Linked DNA regions of Homo sapiens: region 1 is linked to region 2. Evidence: fine-mapped expression QTL. A gene starts in region 2. The other region holds a variant in brackets. All regions are shown on one strand. Distances are between the middles of the regions.

Region 1 (5,381 bases), 20 kb after region 2:
TTACAGGCGCCCTCTACCACACCCGGATAATTTTTGTATTTTTAGTAGAGATGGGGTTTCACCATCTTTGCCAGGTTGGTCCCGAACACCTGTGATCCGCCCACCTCGGCTTCCTAAAGTGCTGGGATTACAGGCCTGAGCCTGGCCACCTCTGGGGTTTTAAATCAGTTTTGTTATATGCTGAGTATTTTTTTTTTTTAATGTACTTATTGTACTTGGGGTTGCTGGTTTTAAAACTATAGCCTGGTGTGGGGTGTGTTGGAAAATTCTCAGCTGTTATCTCTTCAAATATTGTTTCCACTGCCTCTGCTGGGACTCCTGCTGCAAGTATATTAGACCTTTTTAGCTTGTCCCACATATCTTTTAGGCTCCTTAATGTACCTTTTGCATTTCAGTTTAGATATTTACTGACATTTTTTGACTAATCATTTCTTCAGCCATTCTGGCCTGTTAAATTCAACCATGTATTTTTTAAAAAAATTTTCTACCATTTTTATGGCTTGAATGAGGGGATGGAAGGACAGAGATCCTTACTTGTACCTGGTATTTTACAGTTGGAAGTTCATCTTCTGCCTTAAAGAGTTAAAACTTTGACTATTTAAACATCGATGTCACAGAAATAATGCCTATGTGAGCTTTATTAGCACACTGGTAACAATGAATATCTAATGTGCTTGTCTCACAGTACACATCTTGAGAGCAGAAACAGTGTTTATTTTTTGAGACAGTCTTACTCTGTTGCCCAGGCTGGAGTATAGTGGTGCAGTCTTGGCTCACTGCAGCCTCTGCCTCCCGGGTTTAAGCAGTTCTCCTGTCTCAGCTCCCCCACGTAGCTGGGAGTACAGGCATGTGCCACCATGCCCGACTAAATTTTAGTAGAGATGGGATTTCACCATGTTGTCCAGGCTGGTCTCGAACTCCCGACCTCAAGTGATTCCCCCGCCCACCTAGCCTCCCAAAGTGCTGGGATTACAGGTGTGAGCCACTATGCCTGGCCAATAGTGTTTTATTAATCTGAGACACCTATCAAATATGACAGTGCCAGAGATATAGGGGAATCTGAATAAATCTCAACTATTTATAAAAATATATTTTGGAAGACATGAACAAAAACAGTGAACAAGATGTATCGTTGGTGTAATATATAGATTTTCATGATGAATGACATAAAGTTTTCATCTATCCTTTCTATATCACCAAATGATCATCTTAGGATGAATAACAATATGCCATTTCAGGGATCAGTTTCATTCACGGATGTGACTGTGGACTTTACCCAGGAGGAATGGGAACAACTGGACCCCTCTCAGAGGATCCTATACATGGATGTGATGCTGGAGAATTATAGCAACTTACTTTCAGTGGGTAAGGACGGTTTTCAGGTACAGCTCACCATGTGCCTAGAGGTATTTATGTCCTGTCTCAGTGACCAGAAATGAGCTTCTGAATTACTAAATGTTTTTGGCCTAAGTCCTCAGGTATTAAACCTGAGAGATCTTGCAGCCTTTAAAGCTCTATCATCTCCTTTCCTTTAAGGCTTCTGAAGTCCAGGCAATTAGGAGCTATGTCCCATTAGTAAATGGCTGTCAAGCCATATGCAATTTTCAAGTTGGAGCAACCAGAAGAGTTTTGGGTAGCATAGAGTTGTCAATTCAGAACATTCTAAGGGAGATAGGACGGGAGAGAGGGAGAAGCAGAAGCCAGTGGAATTAGTATCCAGACGATTATGAGCAGCTCAGTACCTTTGAAATACTTTTCAGCAATCTGTTTTTCAAATCCCTAACACTTAAGTATAGCTGAGGACAGATGACCTGTACCTCAATCTCTGAAGCATACCTCCAAATATCCGTCTCTCCCTGCTTACCTTTTTTTTTTTCCTGTTTAATCTTATAGATATTTGCCTCTCACACTTGAACCCTGAAACTTTCCTAACATATCTTAAACTTTGTTGTGTCTTGTACATGTACCATTCTTTTCCAGTCCACCATTAATGGGCACCTAGGTTGATTCCATGTCTTTGCTATTATGCATAGTGCTGTGATGAACCTATGAGTGGGCATGTGTCTTTTTGGTAGAATCTTTTTTTGAGACAGGGTCTCATTCTGTCACCCAGGCTAGAATCCAGTGGTGACATCACGGTGCACTGTAGCGTCCACCTCCTGAGCTCAAGTAGTCTTCCCACCTCAGCCTGGAGTAGCTGGGATCACAGACACACACCACCATGTCCTGCTAATTATTTTTTACTTTTGTAGAGACAAGTTCTCTGTAGAACTCCTGACCCCAGGCCAGGCGCCATGGCTCATGCTTATAATCCTAGCATTTTGGGAGGCTGAGGCGGGCAGATCACCTGAGGTCAGTTCAATACCAGCACCAACAACATGGTGAAAACCCCTCTCTACTAAAAATACAAAATAAGCCGGGCATGGTGGCATGTGCCTGTAATCCCAGCTACTCGGGAGACGGAGGTTGCAGTGAGCTGAGATCACACCATTATACTCCAGCCTGGGCAACAGAGACCGACCCCATCTCAAAAAAACAAAAATAAGACCTCCTGACTTCAAGTGATCCTCCTGCCTTGGCCTCCCAAAGTGCTGGGATTACAGGCATGAGCCAGTGTGCCTGGCCAGATGATTTTTAATGGGATTGCTATGTGAAAGGGTAGTTCTGAATTATTTGAGAAATCTTCAGACTGTTCTCCACAGTGGCTGAACTAATTTAAATTCCCACCAACAGTGTATCTTAGCCTTGCCAGTATCTGTTGTTTGACTTAATGAACCTGGGTAACTTTATCCTTAAGATGCTGAACACATTGAAAGAAGTAGGCTGGGCATGGTGGCTCATGCCTGGAATATTGAGAGTATCCCTTGAGCCCAGGAGGTCAAGGCTGCAGTGAGCTATGATTGTGCCACTGCACTCCAGCCTGGGCAAATGAGGGAGACCCTATCTCTAAATAGGAATGGAAGAAAAGTAGGATATGATAGTGAAAACATGTTCACTCTCCCAGCAACTTCAGTA[G/GA]AAAAAAAAAAGCAATAAAACCAGCAGCAGTTAGTGATCCTGTGGTAAGGGTTGTGTATCTCTTAGCGAATGAGTTTCTGGATTTTACCATTTGCAAGATTCTCACTTAAGAGATTTGGAGCTCTGCTATCTGGTTGTCACTGCAAACCTATGAGAAGTGCTGTTCTCTGGAAATCATTTTGGTAAAGATGAACAGTAGAAAAAAAGGAGAAAAAGCTTAGAACTATGCAGACTGGTGCTGGTTCTACCATAGTAGTCCGAGTTTAGCAAATAATACTATTAGTCGAGATCTGCTTAGGTGTTTCCCCTTAATTCCCTCATCTGCTTACTTTCTCGGTCTCTGTGCTAACTGCAGTGTCCTTAAGAACACTGTGAATCTCCCTCCCTGGCATTGCCAGCCTTCTCATATTGTGTTCTGTTTTCTGTCTCCTTTCACCCTCTCTGCCCACTTTAAGGTCATTTTGTGATCTGGCAATGCTACTTGTATTGATTTTGGTTTTGTTTTGTTTTTTTAACCACAAGCTATTACCTTTCTCTTTCAAAGTTTGAAAGGAAACATTTGCACTGGGAATTTTTTAATATTGGGAGACTGGGTCCCAAACTAAAGAGTCAGCCCTGTGATAGAACACGTGTGAAGACTTCCCATTCGGTAACATTATAGCGGAGGCATTGACAAGGTTCTTTTCATTGTGCTCTCTATTCCTAGAAGTGTGGAAGGCTGATGACCAGATGGAGAGAGACCACAGAAACCCAGACGAGCAGGCGAGGCAATTTTTAATTCTTAAGAACCAAACCCCAATTGAGGAAAGAGGCGATCTCTTTGGAAAAGCACTTAATCTGAACACAGACTTTGTTTCTTTAAGACAAGTACCTTATAAATATGACTTATATGAAAAAACTTTGAAATATAATTCAGACTTGCTTAATAGTAATAGAAGCTATGCAGGAAAGCAGACTGATGAGTGTAATGAATTTGGAAAAGCACTTCTCTACCTGAAGCAAGAGAAAACCCACAGTGGAGTAGAATATTCTGAATACAATAAAAGTGGAAAAGCCCTCAGCCATAAAGCAGCCATTTTTAAACATCAGAAAATAAAAAACTTGGTTCAACCTTTCATTTGTACTTACTGTGACAAGGCTTTCTCCTTTAAGTCACTCCTCATTAGTCATAAGAGAATACATACTGGAGAAAAGCCATATGAATGCAATGTATGTAAGAAAACCTTCTCCCATAAGGCCAACCTCATCAAACATCAGAGAATTCACACTGGGGAGAAACCTTTCGAGTGTCCGGAATGTGGAAAAGCTTTCACCCACCAGTCAAACCTCATTGTACACCAGAGAGCACATATGGAGAAGAAGCCCTATGAGTGCAGTGAATGTGGAAAGACATTTGCCCAAAAGTTTGAACTCACCACACACCAGAGAATTCATACAGGAGAGCGACCCTATGAGTGTAACGAATGTGCAAAAACCTTCTTTAAGAAGTCAAACCTTATCATACATCAGAAGATTCACACGGGGGAGAAACGCTATGAGTGCAGTGAATGTGGAAAATCCTTTATCCAGAACTCACAGCTCATCATACACATGAGAACTCATACAGGAGAGAAACCCTATGAATGTACTGAGTGCGGCAAAACTTTCAGCCAGAGGTCAACTCTTAGATTACACTTGCGAATCCACACAGGAGAGAAACCATATGAGTGTTCCGAATGTGGGAAGGCCTTTAGCAGGAAGTCCCGACTCAGTGTCCATCAGAGAGTTCACATCGGGGAGAAACCCTGAAACTCCAGCCAGGTCTTACTGTGGAAAACTCCTGCCAGAACTCTTCAAGCGGGTGAAAAACCTCATGACAGTATTGAGGGAACATGGGAATTCATACTGAGATGCAATCTCTCAACTCAAAAATGTATTAAAAATAGGATCCCATGAGAACATTATACTGGAAGTTACATGTGATACCCAGCTAAAGAATACATATCAGAATATATCCAGTTGTAAATAGCCATACCCAGTTGTACTACAATGAGCTTTTTAAAATCTTGAATGAATTGAGTATTCTAGACAGCAGCATAAGAAATATACAAACAGTATCCTATGAATTTAGTGGTTTTATGTGGATATGCCACAAAACACAAGTGGTATGCTTTAGATCTGCACATGTGAATTTAGCATAATCACTGGGAATTTGAAATTCTTGTCCTCTGTGATAATTAGGACATAACAAGATTTTCCATACTAAACATCACATGTGTTTTTCAGTATCTCTGCAATCCAGTATGCATTCCAAATGAAATGTGTAACATTTAAAGTAGCATGGAACCTACGTCTTTCCCTACTGCTTGCTGGCATATATCAGTTGG
Region 2 (5,381 bases):
AGCAGAGGGGCAGAGGGGCAGAGCTGCAGAGCAAGGTGGTGGAGAAGGAGAAAAGAGAAGAAGCAATTGAGCATTGAAGAGGTAGCTGGATGGTCAGAGAGGAATTTGGCCAGGGACAGCAGAACTCCAGGGGACGATTATCTTCCCACGCCATCCCCTTTCCAGCTCCCCATCCTGCTGAGAGCCACCTCCCTCACTCAATAAAACCTCTGCATTTACCATTCTTCAAGTCCATGTGACCTGATCCTTTCTGGATGCTGGACAAGGACCTGGGTATTAAGAGGGCAGGGTGTAAAAGGCTGTCACCCTCACTCTCCACTGAGCTGGTTAACGCTTAGCTGTCCATGGATGGCAACTGCTAGAAGAGCATTAATTGTAACACACCCCTAGATGCTACCATGGGGCCAGAGCCCAAAGGTGCTCACCCTGGCCCTGGCACCCACTTGCCTCTGTGCTCCCCCTCCCATAAGGGGTTTTAGCACAGTGGCTGAGTAAGCTAGCCACGACAAGTCCCGCGAAGGGGTCCAGGGAACTCTCCTGTCTCATTAACATACTGTTACCACACAATCCAGCAACCATGCTAATTTTTTTTTTTTTTTTTGGAGACGGGGTCTCGCTCTGTCGCCCAGGCTGGAGTTCATTGGTGCAATCTCGGCTCACTGCAAGCTCCGCCTCCCAGGTTCACGCCATTCTCCTGGCTCAGCCTCCCAAGTAGCCGAGGCTACAGGTGCCCGCCACCACGCCCGGCTAATTTTTATTTTTGTATTTTTATTAGAGACAGGGTTTCGCTGTGTTAGCCAGGATGGTCTCGATCTCCTGACCTCGTGATCCGCCCGCCTCGGCCTCCCAAAGTGCTGGGATTACAGGCGTGAGCCACTGCACCCGGCCGCAACCATACGATTTACCCAAATGAACTGGAAACTTATATCCTCACAAAACCTGAACACAGATGTTTAGAGCAGCTTTATTCATAGTTGCCAAAACTTAGAAGCAACCAATGTATCTTCAGTAGGTGAATGGATTTAAAACACTGGTACATGCAGACAGTAGAATATTATGCAGCACTAAAACGAACTGAGGCTGGGCACAGTGGCTCATCCCTATAATCCCCGCACTTTGGGAGGCCAAGGCAGGAGGATTTCTTGATCCCAGGAGTTTGAGACGAGCCTGGGCAACATGGCAAAATGCCATCTCTACAAAAAATACAAAAAATTACCCAGGCATGGCTGTGTATGCCTGTAGTTTTAGCTACTTGGGAGGCTGAACTGGGAGGGTCACTTGAGCCCAGGAAGTGGAGGCTGCAGTGAGCCATGATCGCACCACTGCACTCCAACCTGGGTGACAGAGTGAGACCCTGTGTCAAAAAAAAAAAAAAAAAAAAAAAGCCAGGGTAACTTGAGGGAAACATGAGGGAAACTTAAATGTATATTACTAAATGAAAGAAGCCAATCTGAAAAAGCAACATATGTATGATTCCACCTATATGACAACCTGCAAAAGGCAAAACTATGGAGACAGTAAAAATATCAGAGATTTCCAGGGGTTGTGGGATGGATGAATAAATGGAGCACAGATGATTTTTTGGGGGGCAGTGAAACTATTCTGTACGATACTGTAATGGTTACAGGCATTTGTCAAGACCCATAGAATGTACAACATCAAGTGAACACTAATGTAAGCTATGGACTTTGGGTGCCAATGATTTTGTTTTTTAATTTATACTTTTTGAGACAGGGTCACCCAAGCTGGAGTGCAGTGGCACAATCTTGGCTCACTGAAACCTCAGCCTCCCAGGCTCAAGTGATCCTCCCACCTCAGCCTCCCGAGTAGCTGGGACTACAGGTGCGTGCCACCATGCCCGGCTAATTTTTGTATTTTTTTTTTTTTTTTAAGAGATGAGGTTTCACCATTTTGGCCAGGCTGGTTTCAAATTCCTCGGCTCAAGCAATCTGCTTGCCTCAGGCTCCCAAAGTGCTAGGATTACAGGTGTGAGCCACTGAGCCTGGCCAGGTGCTGATATTTAACTGTAGGTTCACCAATTGTAACAAATACACTGTTCTGGTGTGGGATATCAACTTTGGGGAGGTTGTGTGTGCTGGGGGGACATGGGTTATATGGGAATTCAATGTATTTTCTGCTCAAATTTTGCTGTGAACCTAAAACTGTTCTAAAGGATGAAAGGAACTGAGGGTGAAGGGAAATGGGAAGATGGTGGTCAAGGGGTACAAAGTCTCAGTTATGCAAGATGAGTAGTTCTGGGGAGATGCACAGCTATGTGACGATAGTTGACAATATTGTGTACTTGAAATTTGCTAAGAAGATAGATCTTAAGTGTTCTCATCAGACAAATAACTATGTGAGGTGATGCACATGTTAATTAGCTTGATTATGGTGAATATTTCACAAATGTAGATATCAAGTTGTACATCTTAAATATATAGATCTCAACAAATATATATACCTCAACAAAGTGGCCTGGGAAAAAAGGGAAAAAAGCTAGTTGCAGCACATGATACCTTTATGGCCAGTTTTGTAACAACAACAAAAAAATCAAAGTGCGAACTTAATGTTATACGCAGTTAATCTTTAGAAAGTGAGATTATGGATACTTTATTTTGTACATATATTCTAATTAAATACAGTTATAGATTATTTGTGTAATGTTTAAAAGCCAAGTTGTTGTATTTAAGGGGGAGGTGGTGAATTGTAGTTCACGACCCACTCTGGGAAAAAAGAAAACAGTGCAGGCTAAGGAGATTATTTTGGTCGGCTCATCAGACCGCCTAACAAGGCGAAGACTTTCCTGAGAGTCCCTAAAGCCGCGGCCCCGGAGGCTTGTGGGAAATGTAGTCCCGAACGTGGATGGTCCACCCCTCCGAGGACCCTGGGAACGGCCCGCGCCCCTGTTTCTGCGCATGTGCAGTGCTGCGAGCGCGCCGGTGGCCGCCCTTCCCCCACCACCAGCGGCGAGTGGGTGACAGAGCCCCCGTCTCCGCGCGTCTTCGCCGCCCTGCGCCGTGACCCGCTGTGGCACTGGGCCACGAGTGGAGGCTGCGCCCCTCCAGGTACGAGAGGGGCTTCCAGGTAGCTCCGCGCGGCCTGGGGCCGAGGGGAAGGAGATGAGGGATGGGCTCGTGCCCGCGCAGGGTGGGAGCCCAAACTTCGGCTACTCGTAGGCGGCAGTGACCCTCAGGGCGGCGTCCGGGGTTGCCCGGCGCTCGCCTCTGAACGGGGCCGGCGGGGCACGCCTGGCCGAACGTGCGGGGGCGGGGACGGCGGAGGGAAGGGCGGCTATGAGGCTTCGCCTTCTTCTCTTTGTCAGGAGATGCGCCTCAGACGGGCGGCGAAGGGCTCGGGCCGCGCGGGAGCGAGTTCTGGAGCCCCGGCGGGCGCGCGCGCGCGGGACGAGGCCCCGCCGGGGCGTGGTGGGGGCGTGGCCTGACACACCTGGCCACGCCCCGATGCCCGGTGCCTCGTGGGTGGAGGAAGGACTGGAGCCTGGTCAGTTGCCGGTGGTGAAGGAGAACCGTGATCCCTTTGTCAGAGGGTCTTCAGTGAGGTGTTCCCCTGATCCTCGCATCCACCCCGTGACTTCCAGCGTTATCATCTCCGTCGCTATCCCAGGAACACGGGAGGTTCAGAAGGGGAAAGTGATTTCCCTAAGGTCTCACAACCCGGTGGTACTTTATGTGAGCAGCAGATATTTTTTCATTTATCTTTTGATTTTACTCGCTGGTAGATTTTGCCATGTATACGTTTTGACGTTTTAAATTTCTCTCGGGTGGAATTTACTGTTCTTTCCGTTTGGGGCACCCAAAATTCTTCACTACTTTGAAATACGAAAGTTTTCCCATGATTCTGGTGCAGTCACGCTCTGCGTAACAGTGTTTCTGTCAACGAGGGACCTCATGTAAAATGGTGGTCCTATGTGATTGTAATACTATATTTTTGTATTGTACCGTTTCTTTTCTTTACTTTCTTTTTTTTTTTTTTTTTTTTGAGACGGAGTCTCGCTCTGTCGTCCAGGCTGGAGTGCAGTGGCTTGATCTCGGCTCACTGCAACCTCCGCCTCCTGGGTTAAAGTAGTGCTCTGCCTCAGCCTCCCGAGTAGCTGGGATTACAGGCGTGAGCCACCGCGTCCGGCCAGACACAATTTATTGATGTAACTGTTCCTCTAAATACTACTTTAACTACATCACTCAAATTTTTATATCTTGTATTTTCTTTTCTGTTGTTGTTGTTTTTGAGACTGAGTCTCACTCTGTCACCCAGGCTGGAGTGCAGTGGCACTCAGCTCACTGAAACCTCTGCCTCCCGGGTTCAAGCAGTCCTCCTGGCTGGGATTACAGGCACCCGCCACTACACCTGGCTGATTTTTGTATTTTTAGTAGAGACGGGGTTTCACCATGTTGGCCCGGCTGCTCTAGAACTCTTGACCTCAAGTGATTCTCCCGCCTTGGCTTCCCAAAGTGCTGGGATTACAGGCATGAACCACTGCACCCAGCCTTTTTATTGTGTTTTCATTACCATTCAATTCAAATTTTTTTAACTTCCCTTGTGACTTCATTTTTTACCCTTATTTATTTAGATTGTATTGCATAATTTCCAAGTTTTTGGAGATTTTCCAGATCTTTTTTTTTTTTTTTTTGAGACAGAGTCTCGCTCTGTTGCCCAGTCTGGAGTGCAGTAGCGAGATCTCGGCTCACTGCAAGCTCCGCCTACCAGGTTCACACCATTCTCCTGCCTCAGCCTCCAGAGTAGCTGGGACTACAGGCGCCCGCCACTACACCTGGCTAATTTTTTTATTTTTTTTTGTATTTTTAGTAGAGACGGGGTTTCACCGTGTTAGCCAGGATGGTCTCTATCTCCTGACCTGGTGATCCACCTGCCTCGGCCTTGCAAAGTGCTGGGATCACAGGCGTGAGCCATCGCACCCGGCCCAGATCTTTTTATATTATTGATTTATAGTTTAATTCTGATTTGGTCAGAATACTGTGTTACGAATTTCAATTATTTTAAATTTGTTGTGGTTTGTTTTTGTATTGTATTTTTGTTTCATTTTGTTTTAGTAGACTCCTGGTCTCAAGTGATCCGCTGACCTTGGCCTCCCAAAGTGCTTTACAGGCGTGAGCCACTGCACCAGGCCTGTTGTAGTTTGTTTTAAGGTCGAGGATATGATGATCTCTCTGGGTAACTGTTTCGTGTGTATTTGAATAAATATTGTGCTGTTGATCGTAGAATCTTCCTTGATTGATTGATTGATTGAGACAGGGTCTGTCTCTGTTGCCCAAGCTGGAGTGCAGTGGTTCAGTCACAGCTGTCTGCAACCTCAAACCTTTTGCCTCAGCCTCCCGAGTAGCTAGGACTGCAGGTGTGCGCCC

Evidence for each region. PIP is the estimated chance that this variant, and not a neighbour inherited with it, causes the effect. A credible set is the group of variants that fine-mapping cannot tell apart.
Region 1: its variant is the best candidate, but not a certain one, in a credible set for the expression of ZFP1 in lymphoblastoid cells (GEUVADIS, PIP 0.66).

The regions. Positions count from the first base shown.
Region 1 is chr16:75,165,532-75,170,912 of GRCh38, forward strand. ZFP1 (ZFP1 zinc finger protein) reads left to right here. Exons shown (of 4, transcript NM_153688.4): 3 at 1,239-1,365; 4 at 3,722-5,381. The coding sequence ends at 4,803. Among named protein-coding and RNA genes, the nearest start is that of ZFP1, 20 kb to the left of the region's middle. The variant G/GA (reference allele first, on the strand shown) is at 3,016.
Region 2 is chr16:75,145,579-75,150,959 of GRCh38, forward strand. It overlaps ZFP1 (ZFP1 zinc finger protein), which reads left to right and starts at 2,946. Exons shown (of 4, transcript NM_153688.4): 1 at 2,946-3,065. RefSeq lists an enhancer at 2,757-2,806 and a silencer at 3,167-3,536.